Homo sapiens: one gene and its partner. Each later gene encodes a partner of the first gene's protein in a complex. Each region holds a gene or a part of one and is shown in the gene's direction. Other genes may lie near its edges.

What was found.
Region 2: the proteins of CD320 (region 1) and TCN2 are in contact, whole or in part, in a crystal structure (PDB 7QBF), measured with the Homo sapiens proteins. Residues at the interface, in NP_057663.1 of Homo sapiens: Thr57, Lys58, Leu66, Cys67, Val68, Pro69, Trp72, Asp75, Arg76, Asp77, Leu78, Asp79, Leu133, Glu136, Cys145, Ile146, Pro147, Thr149, Trp150, Asp153, Gly154, His155, Pro156, Asp157, Cys158, Pro159; in NP_000346.2 of Homo sapiens: Asp70, Leu71, His74, Lys77, Leu78, Gln81, Gln82, Glu91, Asp92, Arg120, Gly121, His122, Lys123, Asp125, Arg126, Val128, Ser129, Lys132, Trp133, Glu136, Arg140, Lys169, Arg170, His172.

The regions. Positions count from the first base shown.
Region 1 is NC_000019.10:8,306,063-8,309,968, reverse strand, and holds the start of CD320 (CD320 antigen isoform 1 precursor), read left to right. Parts: upstream 1-1,610; 5' UTR 1,611-1,678; coding exon 1,679-1,820; intron 1,821-3,906. UniProt on the Homo sapiens protein: Receptor for transcobalamin saturated with cobalamin (TCbl). Plays an important role in cobalamin uptake. Plasma membrane protein that is expressed on follicular dendritic cells (FDC) and mediates interaction with germinal center B cells.
Region 2 is NC_000022.11:30,604,876-30,608,781, forward strand, and holds the start of TCN2 (transcobalamin-2 isoform 1 precursor), read left to right. Parts: upstream 1-2,298; 5' UTR 2,299-2,456; coding exon 2,457-2,520; intron 2,521-3,906. UniProt on the Homo sapiens protein: Primary vitamin B12-binding and transport protein. Delivers cobalamin to cells.

The DNA.
Region 1 (3,906 bases):
GCCAGATCCCATTATGCTGGGGCTGTGGGATAAGAATGAATTCGCCCCAGAAGGAAGGCAGCTGGTTCCTGGGGAGGAGACAGAAATCTGCAAAGGGAGGGTGTCCAAGTCTGGCTGCAGGAGCCACCCAGTGACCCTACGCAGGGGAGTGTCATGGCTTCCCCAGGGCACAGCCCCAGACCCTTCAGCAGCTAAAAAAGATCAGCTGTGGACCAAGAGGGTGCTGAGACCGCCCTGCCCTCTGGAAGGGGAAAGGCCACGGCTACAGGCAGCAGGTACCAGTGTCCCAGAGTGGGTCCTACAAAGGCTAACACCTTCCTGGAGAAGGTGGGATTCTGCTTGGGGCAAAAGGATGAATCAGATTCAGAAAGGTCAGGAGGGAAGGAAAGACTAGGCAGGGTGTGCAGAGGCCACAAGGAGGGCAAGACCCTAGGCAAGGCATGCCGCTGACGGCATCTGAACCAAGTTTTATGACCACAACTTTTTTTTTTTTTTGAGACAGAGTCTCACTCTGTCACCCAGGCTGGAGTTCAATGATGTGGTCTCGGCGCACTGCAACCTCCGCCTCCCGGGTTCAAGCGATTCTCCCATCTCAGCCTCCCTAGTAGCTGGGACTACAGGAGCATGTTACCACACCCGGCTAATTTTTGTATTTTTGGTAGAGACGGGAGTTTTACTATGTTGGCCAGGCTGGTTTAGAACTCCTGACCTCGTGATCCGCCTGCCTCGGCCTCCCAAAGTGCTGGGGTTAACAGGCGTGAGCCAGCGCGCCGGCCAACTTTTCTAACAAATGGGGTCTCACTGTCACCCACGCTGGAGTGCAGCCCCAAGTGATTCTCCCACCTCAGCCTCCTGAGTAGCTGGGACTACAAATTAGAGCCACCATGCCCAGCTAATTTTCTTTTTTCTTGAGGCGGGCGGGGACTTGCTGTGTTGCCCAGGCTGATCTCGAACTCCTGGGCTCAAGCGATCTGCCCGCCTCTGCTTCCCAAAATGCTGGGATCACACACGTGACCCACCGCGCCCGGCCTTTATTATTAAATTTAATTAATTAATTGATTTCCTTTCCTTTTTCCCCCCCAAGCAACCCGACTCCGAGAATGGACGTTTCATTTATTCATTTACTCACCAAATGTTTACTAAGAGCCTACTATGAGTCAAGCACTATGTGTCAGATCCTGAGAATAAAGCAGTGAGCAACAGAAGATCCCTGCCCTCCAGTAGCTAGCATTCTATGGGGACTCGGACAACAAACCAGAATAAGTAAATAAAATAAATTACCTGTCGGCGCCACAAAAGCAGTGGGATGAGGGAGGAAATGCGGAGTGCCTGAGGGGCGTGGCTGCCATATTAAAGAAGATCACGAGGCAGTAACATTTGCAGCAGTCCTCATTTGGAACGGGAAATAATGCAAATGAACACCAACAAATTCCTTCCCATCCCCAGAAGTTTCTAACTTCAAGCGGGCTCCATACCTTTCAACTGATCTGGTCACTGGGGAAAGTGGGGACGGGCCTCTAATTCTCTTTTCCCTGCTATTCTGACATTTACGGTACGCGTAGCCGCGGGCGCCGCAGAACTCAGGGGCTTGGGCCCCGCCCCAACCCCGCGCGTGCGCGTGCGCAGGGATAAGAGAGCGGTCTGGACAGCGCGTGGCCGGCGCCGCTGTGGGGACAGCATGAGCGGCGGTTGGATGGCGCAGGTTGGAGCGTGGCGAACAGGGGCTCTGGGCCTGGCGCTGCTGCTGCTGCTCGGCCTCGGACTAGGCCTGGAGGCCGCCGCGAGCCCGCTTTCCACCCCGACCTCTGCCCAGGCCGCAGGTGAGTGACGCCCCGCAGCGCGGGCTCCCACCCCTCGCGAGGCTTCGCCCCGCCGCCGCGCACCGACAACGCCTAGTCACTGGCTGCACCGCACGTCAGTTCATGACACTCCCCCAGCACGTGGACTTGGACTTCATCGCTTGTGGGAAGGCGCGCACTGGTGCTAGGAAGACCCCATGCTGGGGGAGGGGAGGAGGGTGTCTCCACCTGCCTTTAACGGTTTTGCTCCGGCCCTGCACACCGTCTCCACACCTGCTGTGCCCTGTCGTCCCCCATTGTCACCTCCAAGCCGCCCTTCATACCAGCGTGGTCAGGAAAGCTCTTAGCAGGCTCAGATTGTCCGACCGCTAATCACGCAGGACGGGTCACCTGGTGCCTCTCGCACCTTTGCCTTCCAAACCCTCGCGCCCAGGCCTTGTGACCGTTCCGCAACCGTCCCTGCCCTCCCAGTCTCTCCTCCTTTGTCCTCCATCCTTAGAGAACGCGAGGTCTCTCCCCCCCATGCTACTGCAGGCTCTCGCAGAGACTGGGGTCACAAGTTGAATATACCCCCGTGGACGTGTTCGCCCTGGCCTAAGAGGTATTGGTGGCCAGTGGGGACGGGCTCCCTCTCTGATACCCCTAGAGGCAGCTGGAGGGTTGGAGTGGCCTCCCTGTGCACTCAGGCACTCCCAACTTGCAGCCCTGGGCTCAGGCTCACACACTTTCCCAGCTCCTTTGTGCATTCCGCACTTCTAGGTCCCTGGACTCATCCCAAAGTCCCTGACATTCACGTTAAATGTTCCTGGGTTTTTTTTTGTTTGTTTTTTTTTAAGGAGGCAGCGTTCACGTTAACCAAGTACAAAAGTTTTTGTTTTTTTTTTTTTGAGTCTCCCTCTGTCGCCCTGGCTGGAGTGCAGTGCAATGTTGGCTCACTGCACCCTCCGCCTCCCGGGTTTAAGCAATTCTCATGCCTCAGCCTCCCGAGTAGCTTGGGACTACAGGCACCGTCACCATGCCCGGCTAATTTTTGTATTTTTAGTAGAGATGGGGTTTCACCATGTTGGCCAGACTGGTCTCGAACTCCTGACCTCAAGTGTTCTGTCCGCCTCAGCCTCCCAAAGTGCTGGGATTACAGGACAAAACTCTATACACAGTCTCTTTTTTCTCAGGATGTTGAGGTAGGGATTCCCAGCATACCCCGTTTACAGGTGAGGAAACTGAGGCCAGGAGAGAAAGTCACTGGTCACTGTAACTCCTGTCAGGCTTACACCCTATGAGGCGGGGACTGCTGTGCTCTACTGTCCACTTTGCAGAGGGATACACACTCCCGCAGTCCAGCGAAGGGAGGTCAGAGGTGTCAGGGCTGTGGAAGTCTGCGCCTGGGTGGAGAGCCACACCTGGAGGCTGCCAGATCTCCCGGGGGCGGGGAAGGAAGCAGGCACCGGTTTGTCCACAGCTCTTCTGGGATCCATAGAGCTCAGGGACCCTGTGGCAAGTAGGTGCAATTAGGCCTGAAGGCCGAGGAGGGGCTGGCAGTGGGGAGTGGGGGGTTGGAGGCTCATGGCTGGTGGGTAAAGGTGGAAGAGGTTAAAGGCCTTGGCAGAGTGAAGCTAAGCCAGGGTGGCGGATTTGCCACCTCCCCTGGCCGCACCCAGGAGGAAGCCGTAAAGGCCACTCCCTTCCTCTGTCCCTTGGCCCAGGTTGCGGGCCCCTCCGTGCCCCTCCAGGTCGGCAAGCAGCTGAGCTTCCCTGCTCAGAATCTAGGACAGCCGGGATCTTCTCTGGACCCAGCTTGGACCCTTATGTGACCTGTGTCCACTTATAATCAGGCACTGCCCTGGGTTTAGGCGGCCAGGTCACAGCCCTGACCTCCACAGAATGTCCAGTCTGTGGGTGGACAGGCATGACCAGGGCTTTAAGGACAGTTGTTAGACATGGGAGGCAGTGCTTCCTAGGTCTCCAAGAGGGACATGAGAACCCTCCCAGGAAATCAGCTGAGATCTGAAAATTGAGGGGAAAACACAGGGTGTAGGGAGGAGAGAGGGAAAGGCAAGTCTCTGGTGTCCTAATGGACCTTGGGGCCTGGGGCCTGGGGCTCTGGTGA
Region 2 (3,906 bases), on another chromosome or scaffold:
AAAAATAAAAAAAATAGAAATCCTGATCTAAATGATGTAATCATTTTTGTTTTTCACATTCCCTGACCACATGACCTGAAATAGCACTACCCCTGACCAGTCACTCTATTTCTTTTTTTAATTTTACTTTATTTTTAGGACAGGGTCTCCTTCTGTCGCCCAGACTGGAGTGCAGTGGTCTGATCTCAGCTCACTGCAACCTCAGCCTCCTGGGCTCAAGTGATCCTCCCACTTGTAGCCTCTAGATTAGCTGAGACTTACAGGCACACACCACCATCCCTGGCATTTTTTGGTTTTGTTTGTTTTTTAGAATCAGGGTCTCACCATCTTGCCTAGACTGGTCTCAAACTTGTGGGCTCAAGCAATCCTCCTGCCTTGGCTTCCCAAAGTGCTGGGATTACAGGCATGAGCCACCAGTATTTCTAATATGTATGGGAAATATGCTGTCTTCCTATTCCTACTCCCCCACCCTCTAGCACTGAGTCCAGGTAGGTAGGCAGGGGGGTGTCTCCCTCCTTTACTTCGACACCCTAACTACCTTGGGGATCAGAAGTGACTCTCTGGAAGGATGCTGCTGCTTCTCACCAGAGGCTGACGATAACGAAGGCTATCCTCCATGGCCACCTCCTCCAGGCTGCCTTCCTGGAAATAGGAATCATAATAGTTGTTACTGGAAACAGGCAGAGGGTTGGGGGAGCCAAGGCAGTCCCACCCAGGACCAAGGTGGCTCCATTGCACACACTTCACCATGACTCCCCTGAAGGTCCAAACGTGCGGTTCTGCGGAAGTTGGGCTCCCCACTGGCCTCCCTCCTTCCTCAGAACCTCCAGGGGTGCTCCTCCTAGTGGCCACATCCAGCCTTTCTGACTGGACAACCTATCATTTAAAATTTTCAAGTAGTTCCGTAAACAGACACACGTTGCTGTATTTATTTATGTCAAGGGCTTGGTTTGTGATAAATCAGGCTCAAAAAGATTGTCTTAAAAGAGTGAACCTTGGCAATTTACCATAAAATAATTGCAATGCAGATTGTGCATGGAAATGATTGGAGATATTTTAAGGTCATAGTGTCTTCACAAATTGAGCTGAAAGGGAACTGTTAGGATGATCTTGCCTAACCCTCTCTTCTCACACAGGAAGAACTATTTTAAACTCGAGAGGTTAAGTGACCTGGCCAAAGTCACACAGCCACCACTAGTTAACTCGTATACATTGATTCTCCTGTGGGGCTGGGCAGATGAGGAATCTTTTGTTCTCTTCCCTGTTTGCAGAGATTTTTTTTGAGGTTACTTTCCGAGTTCTGGCAAGTACCCCTGCTTCTGGTAGCTTTGTGTCTCGATTCAATCTCATTCTTTTTATTTTATTTTATTTTTGAGACAGGGTCTCACTTTGTCACCCAAGCTGGAGTGCAGTGGTGTAATCTTGGCTCACTGTAGCCTCCACCTCTTGGGTTCAAGCGATCCTCCTGCCTCAGCCCCCCAAGTAGCTGGGATTACAGACGTCTGCCACCACGCCAGGCTAATTTATGGTTTTTTGTATGTGTTTTTTGTGTTTTTGTAGAGACAGTGTTTCCCCATGTTGCCCAGGCTGGTCTCCAACTCCTGAGCTCAAGTGATCTGCCCGCCTCAGCCTTTCAAAGTGCTAGGATTACAGGTGTGAGCCACCGTGCCCGGACTTAATCCCATTCTTTAACTTGTTTTGTTTTGTCCTCTCCAGGAGGCTCCCAGCCCTTTCGGATTGGTTGAGAAAAGTGGCCTGGCTGGTCTGGGGCCAGCGGCACCCACCCTCCCCTCAATTGCCCAACTCCCCCCCCCCACCGAACTGCCCAACTCCCCCTCCCCAACTGCCCAACTCCCCCACCCCCACAATCCCCTCCCGCCACAACTGAGGGAGGCGGTGCTGAAAAACAGCTGACTCCAGCAATGCTGCTCACGTGACCACTGCAGCTGCAGCTCCCGTTCCACTCCTTGTCCTGGGCTAGGTGGGCACTACCAGGGGCTCCTTTGGTAAGGAGTACCGGGTAGGCACCCGGTCCTGCCAATCCACCACTGGAACAGCTGGGGGGACAGCAGACAGGCACGGTCGGACAGACTTGACAGATCAGGCATCAGGCCCTCTGCGCTGGTCCCGGGCTCTTTAAGCAGGAACGTGAATGGCCTCAAGATGTCTCACATGGTCCCACTAGCCCTCCTCCTCCCTTTGTTCCCTACCTCCAGGAGGGCTGCTCTGCCCTTCCTTCCTCTGTTCTTTGGCCTTATGTTCCCCGCCACCACAGACCTTCCCCCGCCCCACCCCTCTGCAGACTTAGCCGTGCATTGCAGGCATGGAGGATTAATCAGTGACAGGAAGCTGCGTCTCTCGGAGCGGTGACCAGCTGTGGTCAGGAGAGCCTCAGCAGGGCCAGCCCCAGGAGTCTTTCCCGATTCTTGCTCACTGCTCACCCACCTGCTGCTGCCATGAGGCACCTTGGGGCCTTCCTCTTCCTTCTGGGGGTCCTGGGGGCCCTCACTGAGATGTGTGGTGAGTAACTCGCCTCTATCCTGTGCCTCTTTCCTCCTGGGTCCTTAGTGGGGTGGCTAGGGCATAGGATGAGGGAACTTACCTGCCCTTCTAAGCTCCCATAGCAGTTTGGGCTTAGCTGGACCTCAGCATTTAACACATCCTATTGTGATTGATTATATGTTTGACTCCTCACCAGACAAGATCTCCGTTAATTCAGTCATTCGTTCACACATTCATTCAGCGCATACTGAGCCTTTTCTGTGTCAGGCCCAGTGTTAGCCTTTGGGGAACGTGCAAAGCATGAGACAAGTCTAATCCCTGCCATCCTAGAGCTTATGTTCTAGGGAAGGGGGACAGACAAAAGAAATGGTTAGGTGCTCCCACCTGAAATCTCAGCATTTTGGAAGGCTGAGGCGGGAGGGGAGGATCGCTTGAGCTCAACAGTTCAAGGTCAGCCTGGGCAACATAGGGAGACCCCATCTCTACAAAAAATAAAAAAAATTAAAAAATAGCTGGGCATGGGGAAGACTTTCTGAAGACCAAGAGGACACATGGGAGCTGAAACTCGAAGGAAGAAAAGGAGCTGGCAGGAAAGGAGTGGGGGACACACATTCTAGGCAGCAGGAAGTGAGCCTTCGGAGGTCCTGCCTGCTCCAGCTCTGTGCCCCAAGGGGTCTCTTGGAGCACAGTCTCCTGGGACCTGTCTATGAGTCTGAGCTTAGAGGCTCAGGGCTGCTCCTTCAGACAGGAGGCAGAAGGCAGGCTTTGGGAACTTTGGGCCGCCCACGCGCCTTTTCTCCTCCTCTGCACCTAGGATTACGTTGAGCAATACACTTTCACCCCCATGGTCTCTTGAGACCCTGGGGAAACCCTGAGAGGTGGGTGCAGTCATGTCCAGGTGTCAAGTGAAGAAGTCGAGGGTTGGAGGGGCTGAGTGACCCACTCAGGGTGCTCCACCTTTTCCAGAGCTTTGCTGAACTTAGTTTTTAGAACTTGAAGCCTCGTTTGTTTTCGTTTTGTTTTTTGTTGAGAGAGGTTCTCCCTCTGTTGCCCAGGCTGGAGTGCAGTGGCACGATCTTGGCTCACTGCAGCCTCTGCCTTGTGGGTTCAAGTGATTCCCCCACCTCAGCCTCCCAAGTAGCTGGAGACTGCATGTGCATACTACCATGCTTGGCTAATTTTTGTATTTTTTTGTAGAGACAGGGTTTCGCCATGTTGCCCAGGCTGGTCTCGAACTCCTGGGCTCAAGTGAAACTCTTGCGTCGGCCTCCCAAATTGCTGAGATTACAGGCGTGAGCCACCGTGCCCGGCCAGAACTCCAAGCCTCTCATCTGTGTTCCATAAATGCAATCAGACACCTCAGGTCTGGGCCCAGGAACCCCAGCTCTTGGTTCATGTCCGGAC